Linked DNA regions of Homo sapiens. The protein of the gene in region 1 purifies or fractionates together with the protein of each later gene. This does not show direct contact. Each region holds a gene or a part of one and is shown in the gene's direction. Other genes may lie near its edges.

Region 1 (3,500 bases):
TGAAAGGCACTGAATAAGTGCACAGTATTGTTATTCAGATATGGAATTTAATGATCCATTATAGTTCATCAGGAAAATGCACTTTGCAGTGATGGTAGGAAATGTTTCCACCTGATAGAGGGTAATAATAACTGCTTAAAAGTAGATTCAGATTACAGATGAGACAATTAACTCTAGCCATGTGCTCTTCAATTTGTTGCAATTCATTTTGTGATCAAAGTGAGTCACAGAGGGCCAGATGGTCAGGTTCATGTTCAGATCTCTCCTAGGCCAGCCCTTCACTTCTGGGCCCACTGTCTGCACAGCCGACAGGACTTAGTTATTCATTAGCGCTTGTGAGCTGTTTCTCAGAATTCCTAATCGAGGCTCCTGTGATGCCAACAAAAGGGCTCAAGCCAATCTGTATTGTTGAGAGCAGTTTAATTTTACTTGGATTAACTTTCAGTGTCTCTGGTGTGGATCCAGTCTTAACAAAAAGGAAAGAGACCCTAGTGGCTCTCTATCTCTGCTGTGCCTGGCCCCTCTACTCTAGTTTTTGAACCTCAGATTTCAGGGGTGTGACATCTAGCTTATTGTAAATGCAGGCTTGATTGTTAATGAATGAGAGAATACTTAGATAAATAAATATCTTCCTGTGTGTCCAGGGGGTGAGAGCCAGTACTAGCTTCATGGGCATAAGACCTGTGCAGTTACATAGGCCCCCTTCCTCTTCCCTGCTCAGAAGGACCTCATATTTGGTATAAGGTTCTGCTGTTTTCTTCGGAAATTCTTAATAATTTTTGAACAAAGGGCCCCTCGTTTTCATTTTTCACTGAGCCCTGCAAATTATGTACTTACCTGGTTCTGGTGAGGAGCAGGGCATAGTGTGGAGTGGCAGGCCGCCCCTACTCAACTCATTGTAGACTCTTGCTAGGGAACAGTTGGTAGGACTACTGGCTTTGTGTTGCCACATCATTTGATTTTTCCAGGGGAAGCTGAATATTGGATATTTATGTGGAATTTCCTGATTTTTAAATATTGGCTCAAATCTTTAAAAAATTTTTGGATGAAAGCATATGTAAGAGCTAGTGTCGGCCTGGGGGCTGCTTGTCTCCCACTACTGAACAGACTGAAACATCTTTTTTTGTTTAATATCTTTGTGTGTCTCTGTTTTCTAAAGGCCTGGCATATAGTGGATGATTTGTGAGTATGCACCCAATGAATGGTTACAACTACCTGGAAAATAGAAAGATGCCAAAAAAACAAAACTTCAAATCAACATTGAGTCCCACTCAGGGATTGATCAGCTTCCTTTTTAACAGAGAATTCGACATGAAAGGCCGAATAATTTAATACCATGAGTACAGTGTGATTCCTTGCAGGTGAATAATCCATTACTTTTGAACCACCTGCCCTCTATTTAGTTGTTACTGACCAGATGGGGTAACTTGGCTGGGTAATGCCTGAGGACCTCCATGGGAGTTTGACATTTGAGAACACTCACCAAAATAATAGTTTTGATTTACTGAATCCGCACCATGTGCCAGACCCAGTGCTGACTACCTTGCCTGAATGTACTTCATTGATTCCTCAAAGCAACCCTTTGAAGTAGGTGTCGTGCCTGCCCATTCTGCAGAGTTGGAAGAACTAATCTCATGTTGGAATGAACTTAATCTGAATATAGTGCATGTTTTCTTGAATGTCTGAAGGTTATTTCCCCATTCCATTACACAGTCCAGTCCTGAATCAATGACTGGGCATGGTGTAGGACTGTGACATACAGAGAACATGGTCCCTGCCCTCACATAGAACAGAGAACAATATAAAATGTAACATATTTGTCAAAATCTGCAATTCAGATAGCAGACGCTGTAAATCTGCCTCCCTGTTTTTCTCCTTTCCCTGTCTGGATGTTGAAGAAGTTTCAGCGACATATGACCCTGTCAGAGGTACTCACAGTTCAGAAGTCAATGCTGGTTGCAAAAATTGGAATTTCTTTGGAAAAGAAGACAAGCTTTTGGCAGAGCTGGGGCCACATATGGGAACGCAGCACCAAGGCCTTGGGAATGACGGAAAATCGCTTCTGTATTGTTAATAGCAATATATGACCTCTGCTGTCCTCCTATCTTTAAATTTTATGTAAATATTTACAAACTGTTCATGTCCAAACTGAAACCTGCTATGAACTAAACATTTTGTAAACTCAGTAAGATTGCCCAAAATACAACTCAACTTTCACCTTTTTTTTTTTGTTTGTGATGACATTTAATTTAAAAAAAAAAGACAGTAGTTGCTTTTTTTTTTCTTTTTTTTTGTCAGTTCAGGGTCTTTTAATTTTTTCCCTTTACTTTTTTTTTTGTTAATTTCAAATGTCAGTCTATCTAAAACTGAAACTTAATTTTACTATCAGCATGCTACTCAGCTTCCGTAAGGCTGGAAATGTCCTGCGAATCTTACCACTATGTCTTTTCCAAGGGCCATTTCATTTCTAAAGAATGTATAAATTGAACCTCATCCTGCTAGTGACACTACTTCAAAATTCAGGCAGGAATTTTGCCATTTGTTTTTCCTTGAGCTATTTTTTTTCCAAAATAATAAATCTTCCCAATCCAAAAGCATTTCACATCATCCTTCATTCTAGTCATTGGAACTACAGCCAAAATGCCTCTCAGTCTTCCCCAGTGACTTCATAATCACCGTTTCTTCAGCATATTCCCTGGTTGACTTCTCCTTTGTTCCTTAGCCTCATAATGAATTGCCCTTTGGTTCTGAGATGTGTCATTTTCCTCCCTGACCTTTTTGTTCTTTTCCTGAAGGCTGTAGGACATGCTGCTGCTGATGTGATGAGAGCCGGCGCTTGGTTGCTAGGTCCCTCCTGTCCTTGTGTCAGCTTTCATTGGCTCCTTTCCTAAGCATTTAAATCCTCCACTTTCCAGTCCTCCCATTCATCTCATTATTCTCTTCATGTGTGCCTGAGCCTGTAGCTGGCATGTAGACAAAGTCCCAGTTAGTTAGAAGAAAGCTTTTCGAGTTTCCAAGTCTTCCATCACTCTAGTCTTGGGCCATCTTCTATTCTCCCTCCCCTGTCACTTTCTGCAGATACTTCAGGAATTTCCTCAAGACTTTCCAGGAGTCTAACCCAAAGACAGCTTAGACCTTCACTTCGGATTTTAAAGTTGGGAGATCCCAATGTGATGATTTCCATTCCACAAGTAGGAAACAAAGTGAATGTACATGCTCAGCATCTTTCCTTAGTATTTCAGTATCCATAGATTTTTGGCAATTTTTCTTTTTTTCCTATCCTGTATTCTTCTAAGCAACAGAAGCTCGTGGATAGTGCAAAATGGGCCAAGTGTCCAGAAATACTGTTGCTTAGAGGCAGATGCCTCATTCATTCATTAAACAAATATATACTGAGTATCTCTTACATGGCAGGCATAGTGTTAAGTGACCACAGTGCTAATGGGGAGCAAACCCAGTCCTGGCCCCTGGTCTCATGAAGCACGTCATCTGGTAGGAAG
Region 2 (3,500 bases), on another chromosome or scaffold:
GCTTGGAGGGTGCCCAGGAAGCCTAGGAGTTAGTGAGCAAGTCCCTGTGTGCCCTGCTGACAAGCTCTGTGGCTCCCCAGGAGAACTGTCCCAAGGCCCAGGGCTCTGGTCTGCTGAGGTGTATGTATGGCTGGGGGGCGGTGTCCAGAGGAGGCTGCTGGATTCTTCCAGCATTGCACTCAGGACCTTTGTTTGGTAGAGGCTTGGCAGCAGTCATCTCGCTGGACAGTGGTCAGCGTGTGCTTTGCCTTAGCCACAACATGTGGCCTGGGCTTTTGGGGAGAGGGTGTGCGTCTGGGGTGAAGCCCAGTGATGTTAATTCCTCCCAAGGCAGAGGCCCTTGCGGAAGTTCGGGAGGGTGCAGGTGGGTGACTCACCTGAGTGGGCTGATCTTCTGCCTGTCATGCGTCCTGGCAGGTGGGTCCGATGGCTCCCGGCTCTATGACTGCGTGTGGAGGTACAACTCAAGCGTGAATGAGTGGGCGGAGGTGGCGCCCATGCTGAAGGCCCGCGAGTACCACAGCTCCTCTGTGCTGGACGGACTGCTGTACGTGGTGGCCGCCGACAGCACCGAGCGCTATGACCACACCACTGACTCCTGGGAGGCCCTGCAGCCCATGACCTACCCCATGGACAACTGCTCCACCACTGCGTGCCGTGGCCGGCTCTATGCCATCGGCTCCCTGGCTGGCAAGGAGACCATGGTGATGCAGTGCTACGACCCGGACACCGACCTGTGGTCGCTGGTGGACTGCGGCCAGCTCCCGCCCTGGTCCTTCGCCCCCAAGACTGCGACTCTAAACGGACTCATGTACTTTGTCAGGTGAGTTCCAGGTGCCGAGCCCCACTGTGTGTTTGGTGTCTCTTACCAGGCCCTGTCTTAAGCACACATCATGGCTGTTCTCCCTTTTCCACAGATGAGAAACTGAGGCCTAGCTGGGGTTGGAGGCTGGGTCTGTCTCTTTGTTTTTGTTTTGTTTTGTTTTTGAGACGGAGTCTCGCTCTGTCGCCCAGGCTGGAGTGCTGTGGCGCAATCTCAGCTCACTGCAAGCTCCACCTTCCGGGTTCACGCCATTCTCCTGCCTCAGCCTCCAGAGTAGCTGGGACTACAGGCGCCCACCACCATGCCTGGCTAATTTTTTTGTATTTTTTGTAGAGACGGGGTTTCACCGTGTTAGCCAGGATGGTCTTGATCTCCTGACCTCATGATCGGTCCGCCTTGGCCTCCCAAAGTGCTGGGATTACGGGCGTGAGCCACTGCACCCGGTCTGTTTTTTTTTGTTTTGTTTTGTTTTTTTAAAAGAAGAGTTTCGCTTTTGTTGCCCAAGCTGGAGTACAGTGGCGCGATCTTGGCTCACTGCAACCTCTGCCTCCCAAGTTCAAGCCATTCTCCTGCCTCAGCCTGCCAAGTAGCTGGGATTACAGGCATGTGCCACCATGCCTGGCTGATTTTTATATTTTTAGTAGAGACAGGGTTTCTCCATGTTGGTCAGGCTGGTCTAGAACTCCTGACCTCATGTGATCCAGCTGCCTCAGCCTCCCAAAGTGCTGGGATTATAGGCACAAGCCACCACACCTGGCTCATTTTTTAACTTTTTGTAGAGACAGGGTCTCGCTGTATTGCCCCGGCTGGTCTCAAATTCCTAGCTTCAAACAATCGTCTCACATTTCCTGCCTCCCAGAGTGCTGGGATTGTAGGTGTGAGCCCCCACACCCAGCCAGGCCTGGTCTTTCGGAGCCCACAGTGCTTGTTCCATTCCTTTGGGTTTAAGGAAAACCCCAGGCTTTCTTAAGCGATTTCACAGGTGGTGGAGTTGAGCTCTTCCAGCAAGAGTAGGCTGTAGGCTGAGCAGCACGGAGCAGAGACAGGCAGCCTGCGGGTCATCATATGTCTGCTGGCCTTGATGACCTGTCTGGTCACAGCCAAATGCTGCCTCCGGCTGGTTTCTGGGCATCAATGATGGCACGGGGCAGCCCCTCCCTGCTGTACTCCGCTGCTTGTTCACATAATCCTGCTGCTCCCTCCCAGCCTAGAGCCTGCCTGAAGCTCTGGGTCCAGGAGGGAAGGGGAAGAACTGAATGACAGTCCCCACTGTGCCCTTTCGTGCTGGGGCTTTGAATGGGGAGCTTGGGGGATGTGAGCTCCCTGCTCCTTGGCCCCCTGCCTCGCACTGCCAGAGCTGCCCTGGCCTTGGCATCTGCCCCACCATCCCCCCAGACAGGAGGCTCCTTACCAGGCTTTTGGAGTGAGCACCAAGAAGAACAGGGGTGGCGTTGCTTGTCACGCAAGTAGCTGGGCACCACCACATGCCCAGAACCAATGGTCTTGCTCTGAGAAAGCCCTGGAATCTCAGCCAGCTCTGGTCCCATTATAAAACATCATCTGACCCTTTGCCCGGCTCTCCCTCCCCCAAGTTGTGAAGGTGTCTTCAAAGAGGGGGTGGAGATGGCTATAAATACAACTTATCAGAGGGCCAGAACCTTCCTTTCGGCCCCTAGGCAGTGGTTCCAGGCCCAGTGTCTTTGAGAGTCCTCCTCCCCTCCCCCATCTGTCCTAGAGCAAGATGTGAAGATGTGCGCCAGGGAGGTCTGCCTGCTGGGTTAACCTTCCCATAGGGAAGCATGAGGGTCTGCCCCGCCACCCCCACCCACTGCTGACCTTTCCAGGGGTTTCCTAAGCCACTTGCACGTGTGGGAGGAGGCAGTGCTCTGGAAAGGCTGCATGCGTTCATCTTACCAGTGTGACCTGTGCCGGAGCACAGAGGAGGGGCGCCCAGGCTCAGCCTGAGTGGAAGCTGCTTGAGCCCTAAAGAGAAGGCTAAGCATGCAGGGGCCCTGCTTGGGGCTGGTCCCCCTGGGCTATTTGTCCCGGTGTCACTTTGTCTGCGCACTTTGGCTCTTCAAGAGCCACATAACCCTCTGCCCAGAACACCACCTGTCTTTGGGCAGCTTGTGCCTAGGACGTGCCATTCTCAGGGAGGCCACAGCCTCAGCCGTTGTCCATGTGACCCACAAATGACCTGGGCCTCCCTCCCCTTGGTTCTGGTACAAAATGCCTCCTTGGCTGGGGTGCAGTAGCCCCCTCTGGGAATGCCGGCGAGCTCTGTCCAGCCTCTGGGCTGTGGTTTGCAAGTCTCTGCTGGGGAAAGACAGGGCAGCCTAGCAGGTTCCAGGGTGTAATCATCATCATCATCACCACCACCACAGGGCCCACAAACTGAGGGTGACTTTGACATTTTGAAATGATTGGGGGCAAAAAATCAGGAATAACATTTCAAGTTAGACGAGATGTAAATGTCTGTCCATGGATAGTTTTCTTGGCACACAGCCAGGCTCGTGTCTATGCATTGTCTGTGGCTGGTTTTGTGCTGCCGTGTCAGGTTCACAACTACTGTTGTTTGTCTTGTAGTATCTTTGTTTCTTTTTTTTGTTTTTGAGACGAAGTCTCACTCACTATGCCTCCCAGGCTGGAGTGCAATAGCACGCTCTTGGCTCACTGT
Region 3 (3,500 bases), on another chromosome or scaffold:
TTAATAAATTATTTAACTGATAGGGCAACAAAATATACATTGTTTTATAAGCTGTATTTTGCTAATTTTGAAGTCATTAGGATTTCTGTTAAGCACTTTACTTAGATTAATGTATGCTTTAATGTACTCTATTATAAAGTGTCAGTTGTAACTCTATACCTAGTAAATGTAAAAGTTAGGCCTAGTCTAATTTCTACAGTACATTTAGTTACAGAATTTGTGAGCAAGAACCCTTTGTAAATGAAACTATTTATATATTTTCCATGTTTCTTGTGCTTGGAATTCAATGAGTGTCTTGGATCTGTGGGTTTATAGTTTTTATCAAATTTAGAAAAGTTTCAGTCATTATTCCTAGAAGAAAATATATACATATATATATATATATATATATATATATATATATATATATATATTTATTTATTTATTTATTTGACCTCTTCACCCTTTTGGAAGTCCAGTTACATATATATTAGTAGCTTTGATGTTGTCTTAAAACTTACTGATGTTTAATTCAATTTTCTTTCAGTCTTCTTTGTTTCATTTTGGATAGTCTGTTGTGATGTCTCCAAATTTATTAATTTTTTCTTCTATAATGTTTAGTCTGCTCTTAATCCCACCCACCATATTTTTCATTCCAGATATTATAACTTCATCTTTAGAAATTGTCTTATATCTTCCATGTCTATGTTTTTCATGCTCTGTCTTTTCTCTAGCTTCTTGAACATATGGAATACAGTTATAATTGGCTTAATGTCTATGTCTGCTAATTCTGTCTGTGTCATTTTGGGGTTGGTTTCGGTTGATTGATATTTCTTCCCATTATGGATTCTGTTGCTTTTGCATGCCTGGTGATTTTTTTTTTAATTTGATGCCAGTCATTTGAAATTTTAGCTTGTTTGGCGCTGGATATTTTTGTATTCCATTAAATACAAAAATCTTGAGCTTCGTTCTGGGATGCATTAAGTTACCTGAAAACAGTTTGATCTTTTGGGGACATGCTTTTAAGATTTGTTAGGCAGTACTACTTTGTCACACTGTTGAGGCAAAACCCCTCTGAATACTCCAGCTGGTGGAAACAGGACCTACTTGGTGGTGTTCGCTCTCAGTCTTTTTGGTGGTTCTTTCACTATCTTTGGGTAGTTTCCTCACACTTATATTCTGATAAGTACTCAGACTTGAGGGATACCCTCTGCAGATCTTTCTCACTGTTCAACTCTGTTAAGTACTCTGCCCTGTGTACTTTAGCTACCTTGCTGTCTCCAGACTCAGTTCTGTCCCCTCAGCTCAGACCATTGTGCTCTGCCTGGATTCCCCTCTTCCTGTTCTGTGGCCTGGAAACTCTTTCAAGGCCATAATGCTGGAGCAGTTGTTGGATTCATGCTTGTTTCCCATCGATTGGGGATCACTGTCTTTTGTTGCCTGATGTCCAATGTCTTGAAAAACGTTTTATGTATTTTGTCTTTTTTTCCCCCCAGTTGTTTCAGGGAGGAGGGCAAATTTGGTCTCTGGCCACCAGTAGAAATATGTTTGTATACTTTTTTGTTTTTCAAGATGGGGTCTGGCTATGTTGCTCAGGCTGGAATATGTGATCATAGTGCATTATGGCCTCAAACTCCTGGGGTCAGGCCATCCTCCCACCCTAAACATCTGAGTAGTTGGGACTACAGGCACGCGCACCACAATGCCTGGCTGTTTATATACTTTTAATTACATTTTTGCTCTGCTAGTCTTATATTACTGCTTTTAGATGTGAGATGGACTTTTTTTATAGGAACCTTTTTTTTTTTTTTTGAAACAGAGTCTCGCTCCATGCCCAGGCGGGAGTGCAGTGGTGTGATCTCAACTCACTGCAAGCTCTACCTCCCGGGTTCACGCCATTCTCCTGCCTCAGGCTCCCGAGTAACTGGGGCTACAGGCACCCACCACCACGCCTGGCTAATTTTTTGTATTTTTTTAGTAGAGACGGGGTTTCACCGTGTTAGCCAGGATGGTCTCGATCTCCTGACCTCGTGATCCGCCTGCCTCAGCCTCCCAAAGTGCTGGGATTACAGGCATTAGCCACCACACCTGGCCAGGAACCTTATTATATAAGTTTTTTCATCTAAAATGTTTATTAAGACTAAGAAAATTGATTAATTTAATGACTCTGTTGTTGCTGTTTTGCACCCAGACTCTGAAAGTGAAGAGCTAACTTCTTCATGACACTGTTTACTGACTCTGCCTCACAATTTTGAAGTCTTTTCACTGACTTGAGATTTACTGTATTCAGAGATGAATCCTGAATTTCATTGAGTAGCTTTTTGAAGCAAATAATCTCTGTTAGAACTTGTAACATGACTTCAATCGTCTTAAACTAATGGGAAGGAAGAGGAAAGCTATTCAGAGATCTGGAATGATGGGCCAGCTCTTCTGTACGCTGTAGGGCATTTTCCTACTTCAGTGGATTGAAATCTTTTTTCTTTATTGTTATCAGTTGTAGGGCTTGGTGACAGTGAAGTAGAAATAATTATTTTCCTGTTTGAGATGTCATTTAATTCTGGAGCCAGTTTTGAATATTACTTGCTGTGAGTTTTTAAGGAATTTGTGACATTGTAGTTAATTTCATACTCCTAAAATTTTAAAAACGTCCAATTCATATTACCCAAACGGTTGAAAATATGGATGTCTTAGGATTTTAAGTACTGAGAAAATTGTTAATAGTATCAGAACAATATTTGGAATTATTATTTATGATTCAACCCTATTAGATAGTTATAGAGAGCTGTACTTGGAACACTTGGTAATTGTGATAAACTTGTTATGGCTTTTCCTTTAGAATTTTGGGTTTGAAGGGACTTCAGAAGTCATCTGCCCTTTTTTGTTTGTTTGTTTGCTTGTTTTTTTTTTTTGTTTTTGTTTTTGTTTTTTGAGACGGTCTTGTTCTGTTGCCCGGGCTGGAGTGCAGGGGCATGATCACCGCTCACTGCAGCCTTCACCTCCCGGGCTCAAGCTATCCTCCCACCTTAGCCTCCCAAGTACCTAGGACCACAGGCACGCGCTACCATGCTTGACTAATTTTTGTATTTTTTGTAGAGATGGAGTTTCACTGTGTTGCCCAGGCTGGTCTCAAGCGATCCACCCACCTCAGCCTCCCAAAGTTCTGGGATTATAGGCACAAACCAGCCTGACTCTTTGCTTGACTCTATTGACTAGGCTGTGAGTTTCCTGAAGCCAGGGACTCTATCTTTTGTCTCTGTATTCTTAGGACAGTGTTTGACACACAGTACATTCTTGATATATTTCTGTTGAATGATTGAATAATACAGCCATGTGTAGTAAAGTGGAATGAATTTGAGCCTTATGTCAGATAGACATAGACTTGGGTTCAGTTCTAGCTGTGCTACTTATTGGTATGTGAGCCTAATATCTCCAAATTACAGTTCCTACATTTATAAGATGGGAGATAATGTTTCCCTTCCTGATGGGGAAGGATTATCTACTAAGGCAGGGACAGATAAGTC
Region 4 (3,500 bases), on another chromosome or scaffold:
TCTGTGGCCCTTTTGCTGCTCATGATAGTGAGTGGTATGTCACTTTGGAGAAGATTCAAGACTGGGATCCCAAGCCTGGCGCAGTGGCTGATACTTGTAATCCCAGCACTTTGGGAGGCCAAGGTGGGTGGATTACTTGGACCTCAGGAGTTTGAGACCAGCCTGGGCACCATGGTGAAACGCCAACTCTATGAAAAATACAAAAATTAGCTGGCACTGTGGCGTGCAACTGTAGTCCCAGGTACTCAGGAGACTGAGGTGGTACGATCGCTTGAGCATGGGAGACTCAGAGGTTGCAGTGAGCCGAGATTGCACCACTGCACTCCAGCCTGGGTGAGAATGAGACCCTGTCTCAAAAAAAAAAAAAACTGGAATTCCAATAGTACCTAAAACAATCATTGCTTTTCAGTATAAACACAGTAACATGTTGAATTGTTTCTTGAACCAGATAGGCATGTAATATGTTCTGAAGAGTTCCCTTTGAAAAGAGGAAGACAGTAGTATTATATGTTGGCTGTTTATAATAATGCAGTGTTTAAGCTTCTACAGAGATGGTTTCTGTTGACTTTTTCCCCCATGCATGAGCCTTATTTTACTGTTTCTTTGTATGTCTCATCATTTTTTTTGGTTAAAAATTAGATTTTTGGCCTGGGCACGGTGGCTCACACCTGTAATCCCAGCACTTTGGAAGGCCGAGGCGGGTGGATCACTAGGTCAGGAGTTCAAGACCAGCCTGGCCAAGACGGTGAAACCCCATCTCTACTAAAAATACAAAAAAAATTAGCCAGGCGTTGTGGCGGGCGCCTGTAATCCCAGCTACTCGGGAGGCTGAGGCAGAGAATTGCTTGAACCCGGGAGGCGGTGGTTGCAGTGAGCTGAGATCATGCCACTGCACTCCAGCCTGGGCAACAGAGCAAGACTCCATCGCCCAGACTGGAGAGTACACTGGTGAGATCTCGGCTCACTGCAACCACCGCCTCCCCCGGGTTCAAGCAATTCTCTGCCTCAGCCTCCCGAGTAGCTGTGATTACAGGCTTCCGCCACCACACCCGGCTAATTTTTTTGTATTTTTAATAGAGAGGGTGTTTCACCGTCTTGGCCAGGCTGGTCTTGACCTCCTGACCTCGTGATCCACCTGCCTCGACCTCCCAAAGTGCTGGGATTATAGGCGTGAGCCATGGCACCCGGCCAAAAATTGGATATTTTTAAATAAGTTTTATTTAGATCCCACCCCCTACCTCCCCACCCCCATTCTGTCTCTCAGACATGATTTGTTTGGGTTTGGTTTGGTTTTTTGAGACAGGGTCTTGCTTTGTCACCCAGGCTGGAGTGCAGTGGCACAATCTCAGCTCACTGCAGCTTCAACTTCCCGGCCTCAAGAGATCCTCCCACCTTAGCCTCCCAAGTAGCTGGGACCACAGATGCTTGCCACCATGCCTGGCTAATTTTTGTATTTCTTTGTAGAGACAGGATTTCACCATGTTGCCCAGGCTACTAGTCTCGAACTCCTGGGCTCAAGAGACGTGGCCACCTCAGCCTCTCAAAGTGCCGGGATTGCAGGCATAAGCCACCATACTTGGCCAGACATGGTTTCTTTTTTTAATCTTTCAAGCTTTTTTTTTTTTTTTTGAAGACAGAGTCTCACTGTTACCAGGATGGAGTGCAGTGGCGTGATCTCGGCTCACTGCAACCTCTGCTTCCCGGGTTCAAGCGATTCCTTTGCCTCAATCTCCCGAGTAGCTGGGACTACAGGCACACGCCACCACGCCCAGCTAATTTTTGTATTTTTAGTAGAGATGGGGTTTTCACCATGTTGGCCAGGATGGTCTCATCTCTTTACCTTGTGATCTGCCCGCCTCTGCCTCCCAAAGTGCTGGGATTACAAGCACGAGTCACTGCGCCCGGCCTCAAGCTTTTATTTAAGTGCAGTGATCCAGGATGGATTTTAGATCTTGTTGAAAGCAGCCACATCCATGGACTGCACATAGTCCTCAAAAGCAGTGATCTGCTTCTCCACTGTTGCAAGTTTATCATCTTCAACTACACGCTGTATTTGAAGTTTCTTAATTTCCTATCCCACTGGAACTAGTTTAGATGAGCCAGACATCGTTTCTTATTGTTGTTACTGGTTTAGTGACTTTCCTGGACTTCTGTAATCCCTTTCCTGTAATTCTGTACAGTCTACATTTTGTGTGTATGGCCACTGAAGTCTGCATAGGTAGTTTACTGAACAAACTGATCATTGGACAGAAATTTTCTTAAAAGTCTTAAACCAGTAAGTCTCCACATTTTTGTTGGGGAGCTCTTTATAGGGTACACCATCAGTGTCCCATCAAGCAGTTTACAACTGCTTTAGCCTTTACTTCCTGTGTTAACAGAACCTCAAGGTCAGATAGAGATGAGAGTTGCTAAGGTCTTTCCTGGACATGTATACAGCTCTGTGCATGTGTATGGCCCTCTAGGTTCTCTGGAATATTGTCAGAGCTTTTTTTTTTTTTTTTTTTTTTTTTTTTTTTTTTTTTTCCTTGAGACGGAGTCTCGCTCTGTCCCCAAGACTGGAATGCAGTGGTGCGATCTTGGCTCACTGCAAGCTCCACCTCCCAGGTTCACGCTATTCTCCTGCCTCAGCCTCCCGAGTAGCTGGGACTACAGGCACTCGCCACCACGCCCAGCTAATATTTTGTATTTTTAGTAGGGACGAGATTTCACTGTGTTAGCCAGGATGGTCTCGATCTCCTGACCTCGTGATCCACTTGTCTCGGCCTCCCAAAGTGCTGGGATTACAGGCGTGAGCCACGGCGCCTGGCCTTTTTTTCTTTCTTTCTTTTTTTTTTTTTTTTTTTTTTTTTTTTTTGGAGACAGAGCTTTGTGTTGGCACGATCCTGGCTCACCGCAACCTCCGCCTGCCAGGTTCAAGTGATTCTCCTGCCTCAGCCTCCTGAGTAGCTGGGATTATAGGCGCTCACCACCACGCCCAACTAATTTTTTTTACTTTTGGTAGAGTCGGAGTTTCACCATGTTGGCCAAGCTGGTCTTGAACTCCTGACCTCAGGTGATCCACCTGCCTTGACCTCCCAAAGTACTGGGATGACAGGCATGAGCCATCACGTCCAGTCTGTCAGAGCTTTTTAAAGCCCCCTATGAACATCTCATTCTCCAGTTTTTCCTTTCAGTTTTTGTTCAGCTTCTTGATAGCCCAAACTTGTAATGCCACCACAGTAGTTGCAATGATAAACAGTTGCCATTGATTGTTTTTTGACAAATGTCTTGTGTTTAAGGCTATTTGAAAAGTGAGCTGTGGGTCAGATCAAATCTCCAAATATTTTATCCTGTCTTAGATTTATGTTTTAAGGAAGTGGTACACGTAAAGCTCTTAAAACAATATCTGCCACATAATAACATGATTATGCATATGTTCTTTTCATTTCTTGGAATGCCATCTGTCTGCTTGTTCATGGCAAAATTTTACTCATCTTTCTGGTCTCAGGTGAGAGCCAACA
Region 5 (3,500 bases), on another chromosome or scaffold:
GTGTCCTTTCTTTTTTCATCTCACACATTAATGTCTCTCTAGCCTTGGCCGGCTCTCGAATCCTTGCCTAACTTGACTTCTTCCACGTCTACATCCGTGTCCACGTCCTCTCGCATTGCTAATCTCTCTTTTTATAAGAGCTGTTGCTAACAGATTGGCCTTTTTCCTTAAGTCTTTGTTTTTCTTTTTCCTTCCTGAGTTCTCCTGCTTCTATGGCCACCTGGCGGGGCCAGGCAGTGGCACAGGCCCTGCCCCCGCGCACTGCTGTCTCTCCCATTTTCTTCTGATTCTCTTTTTTACACTTACTGTGAGTCTTTCTTTTTGTTTTGCTCTTCTCTTGGCACCGGTCTCTAGCCTCCTCTTTTTTTCTAGATAGAGCTGAGCCGGGGAGAGGAATTTAACCCTTGGCGTGCCTAGCTGCCGCACTTGTTGCTTTTGCTCTTTCCTGTTTTGTTCCTTGGTCACAGCTAACATACGCCTTGGTGGCCACTTTTATAGACTGGGTGATATTCATGCCTGTAGCTTCTGCTTGATGTTACCCTGGGCTTGCTTTACAAACGAAGTATTCACTATATATATATTTATATATATATTTACATATATTTTTTTACATATATATGTAAATATATATATTTACGTGTATATATTTCTATATATTTACATATATTTGTATATATATATTTATATATATTTTTTCGAATATATATATATGCTGATTTTTTTTTTTTTTTTGAGATGGAGTCTCGCTCTGTTGCCAAGGCTGGAGTGCAGTGGTGTGATCTCGGCTCACTGCAAACTCCACCTCCCAGGTTCACACAATTCTCCTGCCTCAGCCTCCCGAGTAGCTGGGACTACAGCTACCCGCCACCACGCCCAGCTAATTTTTTTGTGTTTTTTTTTTTTTAGTAGAGACAGGGTTTCACCATGTTAGCCAGGATGGTCTCGATCTCCTGACCTCTTGATCTGCCCACCTCGGCCTTCCAAAGGGCTGGGATTATAGGCGTGAGCCACCAGCCTCAGGGTTAAATAGGATGTAAAGCCAGAATGCTTTACAGAGTCTCTTATAAAACTGACTTAGGCTCTTGTCAGCTCCTTGAAGCACTTCTGAAATCTTTTTTATATTAATTGCTTTTTTTCTACTACCTCTTAGCCTCTGCAGAAGTGCCTCTTAGTACTGCTGCAAATGCTGAAGCTGAGTTGCATTCTCTGGGTCTTTTTTCCCCTTTTTCCTAGATCTTAACAGGCCCTTTTTTAAATATAATTCTCCATGCAGTTGGAGGGTTAAACAGGCATACTGAGAGTCAGTGTAAATGTTTAGTCTTACCTTCACTGAGTTCTAAGGCCTGAATTAAAGCAATGAGCTCAGCTTAACGACAGTGTCCAGGGTTATCACTGCATATCCTGCACATCTCTCTCCTTGTGGGTTGATGAAGCTGCTCCCGTCCATGTATAGCTCCCAGTCTACTGATGCCCAAGGCTGGTCTCGGAGGTCAGGTCTGCTAGAGTAAACTTGAGTCCAACACCTCTACACAGTTAATGCTCGACAGGGCTCTAGCTGCTGGGAACAAGGTGGCGGGTTCAGGGTGTTTCCAGTTTAGTAGATCAATGGTTAAAAAGGGCTGATAGATGAAAGTCTGTTGCCCCACCCCCTGGATGTGGGCTTGGTCATTATAATAGACAGGTCCTCGTGTCTCCCTGAGAGGCATTTGCATAGCTCCAGCAAGACCAGATCTGAGAGGGCCCACTTGACTATCTTGACTTCCTTCCTTGGCCTCTTGAGGCTCCGATCTTCCCCTTCAAGGTGAGACCTGGGGCATGTTAGCTCCTTAATCTCGTTTCTCAGGGGGCTGTTGGCCTCGGTAAAGGGGGGTAGGCTGGGCCATATGGAGAAAGAATTTCTGTTATCTCTGGCGGCTCCTGCAAAACTGGCTTCTCTTGCTCTTTCTGGGACTCCCCTTTTCAACTCTGTGTCTGCTGGTGCAGCTGTTCTTACTTTCACTTTTGGCTTTTTTGCAATAAGCTGTTAAACAGGGCTAAATTTATGCTGGTTTTTGTCTATATTATATTTAACCATGAATCAATATAAAGGAATTGATCTAGGTCCACTGGCTGTCCTCCAACCCCTGTCACCACCTTAAATACATGGCCAATTGTTCCCTGTCTGTAGTTCCTTCGGTGGGCCATCCAACACCAAAAGAGGGCAATTCTTTTTTTTTTTTCTTTTTTTTGAGACGGAGTCTCGCTCTGTTGCCCAGGCTGGAGTGCAGTGGCACAATCTCCACTCACTGCAAGCTCCGCCTGCCAGGTTCATGCAATTCTCCTGCCTCAGCCTCTTGAGTAGCTGGGACTACAGGTGCCCGCCAGCACGCCTGGCTAATTTTTTGTTTTTGTATTTTTAGTAGAGATGGGGTTTCACCCTATTAGTCAGGATGGTCTCAATCTCCTGACCTCGTGATCTGCCCGCCTCGGCCTCCCAAAGTGCTGGGATTATAGGCGTGAGCCACCGCGCCCAGCAAAAGAGGGCAATTCTAATTCACATAGAGTTCTTAACCTCTGGGGGCTTAACCTCTGTAATCCCCTGCAAAACCTTTCTTAAGGTTCTGTAACATGCATTTTAATAGAGTAAGTTTTGATGATTAGATGACTTTCCTTTTATTTTTCTTCTTGAAATTTTTTTTTAACACAGTTTCTAGCGGAGTGGGCTTACTTTGTGTTTGACCTATTTTTCTCTTGAGACAAAACAACATTCACACTACAAGAAGGAAAGGGTAAAAGGTTACTCACTCGTCTAATTCACACTAAAGGAAAATCAAAACTAAAACCAAAGTGTCATTAAAGGCACACCTGTTTGTCAAGGAATTTAAGCCAAGTCAAAATCAGAACCAAAGCCAAAGTGCCAATAAAGGCACGCCTGTTTATCAAGTAATTCAAGTCAAGTCAAAAACAAAAACCAAAGTATCAAGCATTTCAAGTCAAGTCAAAAACAAAAACCAAAGTGCCGGTACAGGCACGCCATGGGTGATCAGGCCACGCTTCCACTCAAATGGAGTGTGCAAGTTCCAAAGACCAGTCTTACCAAGTTTCAAATGTCCAGACTTAAAGTGCTAGTTCCTTCCCAGTGTTCAGCCACTGCGTTGATCCTCCACGGGGGCTTGCCATGCACCACTCTGACGAGGCATTCCACGGGGGCAAATGCCTACCCGGGAGCACTCTCAGGATCTGCATCGCGCAAGCTGGCTGGAGCCCCCCACAGGGATGCTCTACAGGGCAGGCATAAGCTGCCTAAGGGGCTGGCTTGAACGTCCCTTAATCACCTCGCTTCTCAGTCAGGGAACCAAGAAATGTAGCAGGACGAGCTGCAGACAAAACTCCTCAGACACCGGATTAAAGAAGAAAGAGGTTTATTCGGCCGGAAGCACTGGCAGACTTGTGGCTTAAGAGCGGAGCCCCCCGAAAAAGAAATTCTTGGCCTGTTTAAAGGCTTACAACTTTAAGGGGTC
Region 6 (3,500 bases), on another chromosome or scaffold:
GGTCTAGAATTTCGGGCCTCAGGTGATCCTCCCACCTTGGCCTCCCAAAGTGTTGAGATTACAGGCATGAGCCACCACACTTGGCCTATGAGGGATTTTATACCCAATTTATTATAGGCAAATTCAAGAAAATTAGCTTCCCATAAAAAGCTTCAAGTCTTTTTCATTGCCATTTTAGCTCAGTTGACACTTCTGGGAGACTAGTTTATAGTCAGCCCTTTCCTCACTGGGCATTCCTTGGTGTATCCTCCTGCCTGTACAGGAGTGGTCTTTACTTCCCCTTAATGAGAAGTACAGGCTCAGTGGAAGAGTCTCCAGAAGTGTTTAATGAGTGTGGAACTTTGCTGAACCGCAGCTTTGCTAGGAGATGCCCTAGAGGATTTCAAATCTATGGTTGTATTTACTTAGAGGCTTCTCCTTCCCACTAGTCTCTGACTTAAGAGATCTCAGAATTAGCTAAATTGGACCTGACATCTTAGCTATGTAGAAAAAATGAGGCAGAAATGAAGCTACTTTTGCTGTTGCTCACCCTCCTCAGATTGGGGAAAATGAACCACTACTACCTTCTCTAATGTAGTAGATATCACATTATCTTTAATTTACTCAGCTAGCTATCAAGAAGGTTTCTAAGGGTTAGGGTAGCAAGGGAAGATCTTGAAACAAGCAGTTGCTTCACCAAGAAGCCTGGGATACAGGATAGATAGAACAAAGGATCCACTTTGTTATGAAACTGAACTGCAATGCCAACCCTCCTATCCTGGTTCAGTGTCAAGGCCATTATCTCAGATGGTTTATTGTTCCCTGCAAGGCCGTTTACAGCTCCACAGTTCTGTGAGGTGATTGCATCACTGCCAGGAAAGTGCTCTCTTTCCTTTCTGGTTTTCTCCAGTCTTGCTCCTAAGACCAAGTTGTCATTTATTTCACCAATCAGATGATCAGCCTTTCTTTTCTGTTACCCCAAACCCCTTGTCTACCTGATACATCCAGCACCATATTTTGGGGTGAGATCACCATCAAGCATGGTGAGTTCCCCAGAAAATACCTTTCCTATCTGGTTTGCAGTACTTGAATAGCCAGTTTGTCTTTGTTTGCTTTTGGTAATTGGGTAATCCTTGTTGGCAGAGAAAGTGTTCACAGCTCTCCAGTGGCCAGCAGATTCAGGAATTATTTTGATTTCCTGAAAAATATTATCATAATATTTGCATGGATTTAAATGGCATCTTTTTTTTCAGGTCTTTATAAATATTTGTTTACCATTGGTGAAGCAGGTATTATCTTCATCTTATAGTTGGGGAAACAGAAGCCCTGAGAATTACCGACAAAATGATTTGGCCAGAATTGTACATAAAACATAAGGGGCCCATATTTCTTGGCCGGATGCAGTGGCTCATTCCTGTAATCCCAACACTTTGGGAGGCTGAGGCAGGTGAATCACCTGAGGTCGGGAGTTCGAGATCAGCCTGACCAACATGGAGAAACCCCATCTCTATTAAAAATAAAAAATTAGCTGGGCGTGGTGGCACATGCCTATAATCCCAGCTACTTGGGAGGCTGAGGCGGGAGAATCTCTTGAACTTGGGAGGTGGAAGTTGCAGTGAGACGAGATCACACCATTGCACTCTAGCCTGGGCAACAAGATTGAAACTACGCCTCAAAATACAAAACAAATCAAACATAAGGGGCCCACATTTATTTGACATGCAGTTCAGTGCATTGTATAAGAGCAGAACTTCTTAGAAGCATATTCCCTTATCTTGGAAATGGGAAAATATAGATTCAACCTGAAAGGAATCATAGGGTTAAACTCTGTTCATTTTTCTTTCACAACAGGCTGCTGCTGGGCCCCTTGACATGTCTCTGCCTTCCACACCAGACATCAAAATCAAAGAAGAAGAGCCAGTGGAGGTAGACTCATCCCCACCTGATAGCCCTGCCTCTAGTCCCTGTTCCCCACCACTGAAGGAGAAGGTAAATTCTCTACCAAGGATCATCTCAAATGTTAATTGATAAAGTTTTGATTCATTAATTATATAAATAGTATGTCCTAACTACTCAGGAGGCCAAGATGGGAGAATCACTTGAGCCCAGAAATTCAAGACCAGCCTGGGCAACATGGAGAAACCCCATCTCCACTTAAAATACAAAAATTACCTGGGCGTGGTGGAGCATGCCTGTAGTTCCAGCTACTTGAGAGTATGAGGTGGAGGATCACTTAAGCCCTAGAGGTCGAGGCTGCAGTGAGCTGTGATTGCTCCACTGCACCCCAGCCTGGGCAACAGAGTGAGACTGTCTCAAGAAAAAAAAAAGTATGTATTATAGGAGGACCGATTGTATTTAAAGGAATATTTAGAAGATTTATATAAATTATACCTATTCTCCTTCCCAGCAATTTCACTTATAAGTCTATATGGAAGAGAAATTAGTGCATATGTCTACCAAAAGAAGTATGTTAGAATGTTCATAGCAATTGTATTCTTTTGTTGTTGTTGTTGTTGTTGAGACAGTCTCACTCTGTCACCCAGGCTGGAGTGCAATGGCGTGATCTTGGCTCACTGCAACCTCTGCCTCCCAGGTTTGAGCGATTCTCCTGCCTCAGCCTCCCAAGTAGCTGGGACTACAGGTGCGTGCCACCACGCCCGGCTAATTTTTGTACTTTTAGTAGAGATGGGGTTTCACCACATTTGTCAGGCTGGTCTCGATCTCCTGACCTCAGGCGATCTGCCCGCCTCGGCCTCCCAAAGTGCTAGGGTTACAGGATTGAGCCACCGCGCCCGGCCAGCAATTGTATTCTTAATAGCCAAAAATCAGTCAGGCACGGTGGCTCATGCCTGTAATCCCAGCACTTTGGGAGGCCGAGGTGGTGGAATCACTTGAGGCCAGGAGTTCAAGACCAGCCTGGCCAACATAGTGAAACCCCATCTCTACCAAAAATACAAAAATTAGCTGGATGTGGTGGTGTGTGCCTATAATCCCAGCTACTCGGGAGGCTGAGATAGGAGAATTGCTTGAACCCAGGAGGCCAGGGTTTCAGTGAGCCAAGATTGCACCATTGCACTCCAGCCTGAGCGACAGAGCAAAACTCCGTCTCAAAAAAAAAAAAAAAGTGAACTAATAATTACACAGCAATGTGAGTGAATCCCACAAACATATCCAACAACAACAAAAAAGTCATACACAAAAGTACATACTTATAAAATTCAAGAAGAGGCAAAACTGTTTGACAATGATAGAACTCAGGATAGCATTTACCTCCTGTGAAGGAATGGTGTGGATTGGAAAGGGACATAGAACTTTCTGGGGTGCTGGAAATGGTCTGTATCCTGATTTTACATCTGTAACAAGTCATCTTTTTTTTTTTTTCTTTTGAGAGAAAGTCTTGCTCTGATGCCCAGGCTGGAGTGCAGTGGTGCAATCTCAGCTCACTGCAACGTCTGCCTCCCAGGCTCAAGCAATTCTCTTGCTTCAGCCTCCCAAAGTGCTGCGATTACAGACGTGAGCAC
Region 7 (3,500 bases), on another chromosome or scaffold:
AAGCTGGAGTTTACACAGGCAAACTGTCAGAAAAGAGTAGCCTGGGCTGTCTGGAAATCTGAGGTATGTCTGTAATACTCAAGGATGAAACAAATCAGATCAGTTTGTCCTTTTTCTCTAGGTTCAACATGATTCAAATGATTCTTTCCTGATAGCCTTTTCTTCAAAATTATATAGTAATGACAAAATCCCAGTTACAGTTTGGTTGGGAAATTGTTGATCTTACTATTATTGTTTTACCTGCAGAGAGAGGCCAGAGTGGATGATCACTGGGCAATGCTCACGCCTTTAGTTAGGTGAAATCTACAGTGGTGGAAACAGAAGTTTATTCCTTGCTCCTTAACATTCTGGAAGTACACAGTCCAGAGCTGGTAGCACAGCTTGCTGTGTTCTGTGAGATCATCTGGGAGCAGGATTCCTTTGATAATGTGGCTTTTCTTGCTCAAACTTAGGCTTCCATCTCATGGTCCAAGCTGGCTGCTGTAGCTCCTGCCATCATGTATGATCTCCCTAGGGCAAAAAGGGACACAGAGCAGCGAGCACACACTCATTCCTTTTAAAGTTCTAATGTTTAAGGTGGGATTTTTGTGCAACATGGTTCCCAAACATAAGCCAGTTCCTGCATCTGGTGCACAGCTAAAGAACAGATTGTGACTGTTTCAGTGCTGGAGAAAAAGCTGGCTGAGAGAACCTGCTCTGTCCTCAGTCTGTCTGGATTACTCTCTTGGGGGTGTGATCCCAGCCTGAGGGGAGGTCCACTGAGTCCCCAAGGCAGGCTGCTCTGGCTTTGGGTAGGTTTACAGGGCTTGGGCCCAGGGAGGCCAGGCTTGTTTATCCATTCATTGTTTCTGTGCCCAACATGTGTCAGGCATTGTGCTGGGTGCTAGGGATGCTGGCACAAGTAAGACTGAATCCCGGGAGCAGGTGCTCCCAGCCATGTGTATCCTCACAATGCAATGCAGGAAATACCTTGGAGGGCTGGTGGAGGGTGTGCGCACACAGGGAGGATGCACTGGCGCTGGAAGGCTTTCCTGAGGGGGTGAAGATGTTGCAAACCGCGCATTTTGGACTGATCACTGTAAAATTCCCCTTGGACAGGTAGAGGCAGCTAGGACTCTGGGGTCAGGTGTGAATCTGCCCTCCCGTTGAGTGGCTCTGTGTCCTGACAGTCAGTTCCTTCTGAAACTGTGTCCCAAAGAGTTAAAAAAAAAAAAAGTAATGACTATTAATTTTCCTAATCACAAGATTGTCTTCTGACACATCAGACAGCAAGCCTTTTACTCAGTTTCATTGCTGAGCCTCAGTTTCCTCATCTGTAAAATAGGGATGACAGAATTGTTTGGAGAATTACATGAGGACAGGCAGGTAATTCACAGAATTGTCTGGAGAATTACATGAGGTCAGGCAGGTAATTCACAGGGTTTGCTGCATAGTGCAGCACTCCCCAACCTTTTCGTTTTTTTTTTTCTGTCAGCAAAATATATATTTTATATATATAGTGTATATATATAGTGTGTGTGTATATATATATAGTGTGTGTGTATATATATAGTGTGTGTGTATATATATAGTGTGTGTGTATATATATAGTGTGTGTGTATATATATATAGTGTGTGTATATATATAGTGTGTGTGTATATATAGTGTGTGTGTATATATATAGTGTGTGTGTATATATATATAGTGTGTGTGTATATATATAGTGTGTATATATATATAGTGTGTGTATATATATATATTGTGTGTGTATGTACATATATATATATACATACACACATACAGAGAGAGAGAGAGATTTCCCCCACCCACCCACCTACCTACCCAAAACATGTGTCTTAGTGTTTGATTTTTTTTTTTCATACACACAGAATAGGGAATTTCAGAATTTTTACATACATTTTAGCAAACAAGTTTTGATCTATTGGCTTCTTGGTGCAGTAATGGTGCCAAAGGCTCATACTATTACAAGGAAGTTGTGAACACTGATTTCTCAGGAGGTGAGGCCAGCCCCACATGAACTTCTCTTGCATCCCTCTGGTCCACCATGATACATAACTACTTAGACTTTTTTTTTCCCTCTATTGAATCATTAGATATTAAAAATGGAACAACAGAGTCACAAAGGGCCACATGCTTTTCAGTAGAAAGCATTCTCCTTCTCTAGGTTGCTATCACAGTGCAGACCTGACTGCCTGAATATGCTCAGGAGATTTAGTCAGTATTGTCTGTATTTGGTTATGGAAAAGGCTCTCCTGGCTGGGCGCGGTGGCTTACGCCTGTAATCCCAGCACTTTGGGAGGCTGAGGTGGGTGGATCACGAGGTCAGGAGATCGAGACCATCCTGGCTAACATGGTGAAACTCCGTCTCTACTAAAAATACAAAAATTAGCTGGGCGCAGTGGCAGGCGCCTGTAATCCCAGCTACTCAGGAGTCTGAGGCAAGAGAATCACTTGAACCTGGGAAGCGGAGGTTGCAGTGAGCCGAGATCACGCCACTGCACTCCAGCCTGGGTGACAGAACGAGACTCCATCTCAAGAGAAAAAAAAAAAATTAGCTGGGTGTGGTGGTGGGTGCCTGTAGTCCCAGCTACTCGGGAGGCTGAGGCAGGAGAACCCGGGAGGCGGAGGTTGCAGTGAGCTGAGATCACGCCACTGCATTCTAGCTTAGGTGACAGAGTGAGACTCTGTCTCAAAAATAAAACAAAAAGGCTCTTCCTTTTTTTTTTTTTTCTTCTTTAAGTCCAAAGTGCATAGTGAGAGCAAATCAAAACTTTTTTTATTTTTCCTTCTCAGCATCAGTTTCATGTGAGCATCTTCCCATGAGGGCTGCTCAGATGTCTCGCCTTTGTCCTCCTCACCCTTCAAAAATAAGTGAGAGTCAAGCAATTTAGACATTTATCAGCTTGGCAAATAAACTTGGCAGCAAATAGAAGTCCTACTATTGTAAAGAAATTGATAAGACAAAAGGTACATATGATGACCCAACTACTGTGGTGTTGGGTAATTTATAAGGTTGACCTCTGACTTCATTGATGTAAAATCCTATTGGAAATATGACGGCAGCCATACAGAAAAGCATCATCCCAGTGAATGCTATCCATCGAACATATTTTGTAGCTTCTCTTCCCCAGTGGGAAGCCACCAGCAAACCACATGTGACAATCAATGGGAGGGCAGATTCACACCTGACTCCAGAGTCCTAGCTGCCTCCGTCTGTCTAAGGGGAATTTTACAGTCAATGAAATGATTCCCATGATGATAAAAAACAGCATGGTGACCCACTCCAGGGGAAGCTGGGGAGGGATGCACATCCCCTCTCGTCCACGCATTGTTTGACACTGTCCCATGAGGCCCACAGTGAGTGCTCCCACAGACTCCCTGGTGTTGAGCCAGTCTGGGTTGGTGATGCTGGCGATGGCGAAGATATTGGCAGTCAGAAAGAGACATCCTGAGATAATGGTCAATTTATCATCTCCCTGCCCTGCTCCCCCCACCCTCC

The links.
Region 2: the proteins of BACH2 (region 1) and KLHL21 purify together in Homo sapiens (affinity purification with mass spectrometry; one large-scale study listed by BioGRID and IntAct). This does not show direct contact.
Region 3: the proteins of BACH2 (region 1) and CCDC88A purify together in Homo sapiens (affinity purification with mass spectrometry; one large-scale study listed by BioGRID and IntAct). This does not show direct contact.
Region 4: the proteins of BACH2 (region 1) and ZNF131 purify together in Homo sapiens (affinity purification with mass spectrometry; one large-scale study listed by BioGRID and IntAct). This does not show direct contact.
Region 5: the proteins of BACH2 (region 1) and ACOX3 purify together in Homo sapiens (affinity purification with mass spectrometry; one large-scale study listed by BioGRID and IntAct). This does not show direct contact.
Region 6: the proteins of BACH2 (region 1) and ATF7 purify together in Homo sapiens (affinity purification with mass spectrometry; one large-scale study listed by BioGRID and IntAct). This does not show direct contact.
Region 7: the proteins of BACH2 (region 1) and ZBTB17 purify together in Homo sapiens (affinity purification with mass spectrometry; one large-scale study listed by BioGRID and IntAct). This does not show direct contact.

What each region holds. Positions count from the first base shown.
Region 1 is NC_000006.12:90,290,344-90,293,843, reverse strand, and holds part of BACH2 (transcription regulator protein BACH2), read left to right. Parts: exon of another isoform or gene 1-1,361; intron 1,362-1,898; exon of another isoform or gene 1,899-2,594; intron 2,595-3,500. UniProt on the Homo sapiens protein: Transcriptional regulator that acts as a repressor or activator. Binds to Maf recognition elements (MARE). Plays an important role in coordinating transcription activation and repression by MAFK.
Region 2 is NC_000001.11:6,596,370-6,599,869, reverse strand, and holds part of KLHL21 (kelch-like protein 21), read left to right. Parts: intron 1-417; coding exon 418-823; intron 824-3,500. UniProt on the Homo sapiens protein: Substrate-specific adapter of a BCR (BTB-CUL3-RBX1) E3 ubiquitin-protein ligase complex required for efficient chromosome alignment and cytokinesis.
Region 3 is NC_000002.12:55,413,357-55,416,856, reverse strand, and holds part of CCDC88A (girdin), read left to right. Parts: intron 1-3,500. UniProt on the Homo sapiens protein: Bifunctional modulator of guanine nucleotide-binding proteins (G proteins). Acts as a non-receptor guanine nucleotide exchange factor which binds to and activates guanine nucleotide-binding protein G(i) alpha subunits.
Region 4 is NC_000005.10:43,141,414-43,144,913, forward strand, and holds part of ZNF131 (zinc finger protein 131), read left to right. Parts: intron 1-3,500. UniProt on the Homo sapiens protein: Plays a role during development and organogenesis as well as in the function of the adult central nervous system. May be involved in transcriptional regulation as a repressor of ESR1/ER-alpha signaling.
Region 5 is NC_000004.12:8,434,224-8,437,723, reverse strand, and holds part of ACOX3 (peroxisomal acyl-coenzyme A oxidase 3), read left to right. Parts: intron 1-1,756; exon of another isoform or gene 1,757-1,801; intron 1,802-3,500. UniProt on the Homo sapiens protein: Oxidizes the CoA-esters of 2-methyl-branched fatty acids.
Region 6 is NC_000012.12:53,535,883-53,539,382, reverse strand, and holds part of ATF7 (cyclic AMP-dependent transcription factor ATF-7), read left to right. Parts: intron 1-1,042; exon of another isoform or gene 1,043-1,177; intron 1,178-1,830; coding exon 1,831-1,968; intron 1,969-3,500. Other genes in the region: ATF7-NPFF readthrough protein, read left to right, coding at 1,831-1,968. UniProt on the Homo sapiens protein: Stress-responsive chromatin regulator that plays a role in various biological processes including innate immunological memory, adipocyte differentiation or telomerase regulation.
Region 7 is NC_000001.11:15,969,602-15,973,101, reverse strand, and holds part of ZBTB17 (zinc finger and BTB domain-containing protein 17), read left to right. Parts: 5' UTR 1-63; intron 64-3,500. UniProt on the Homo sapiens protein: Transcription factor that can function as an activator or repressor depending on its binding partners, and by targeting negative regulators of cell cycle progression.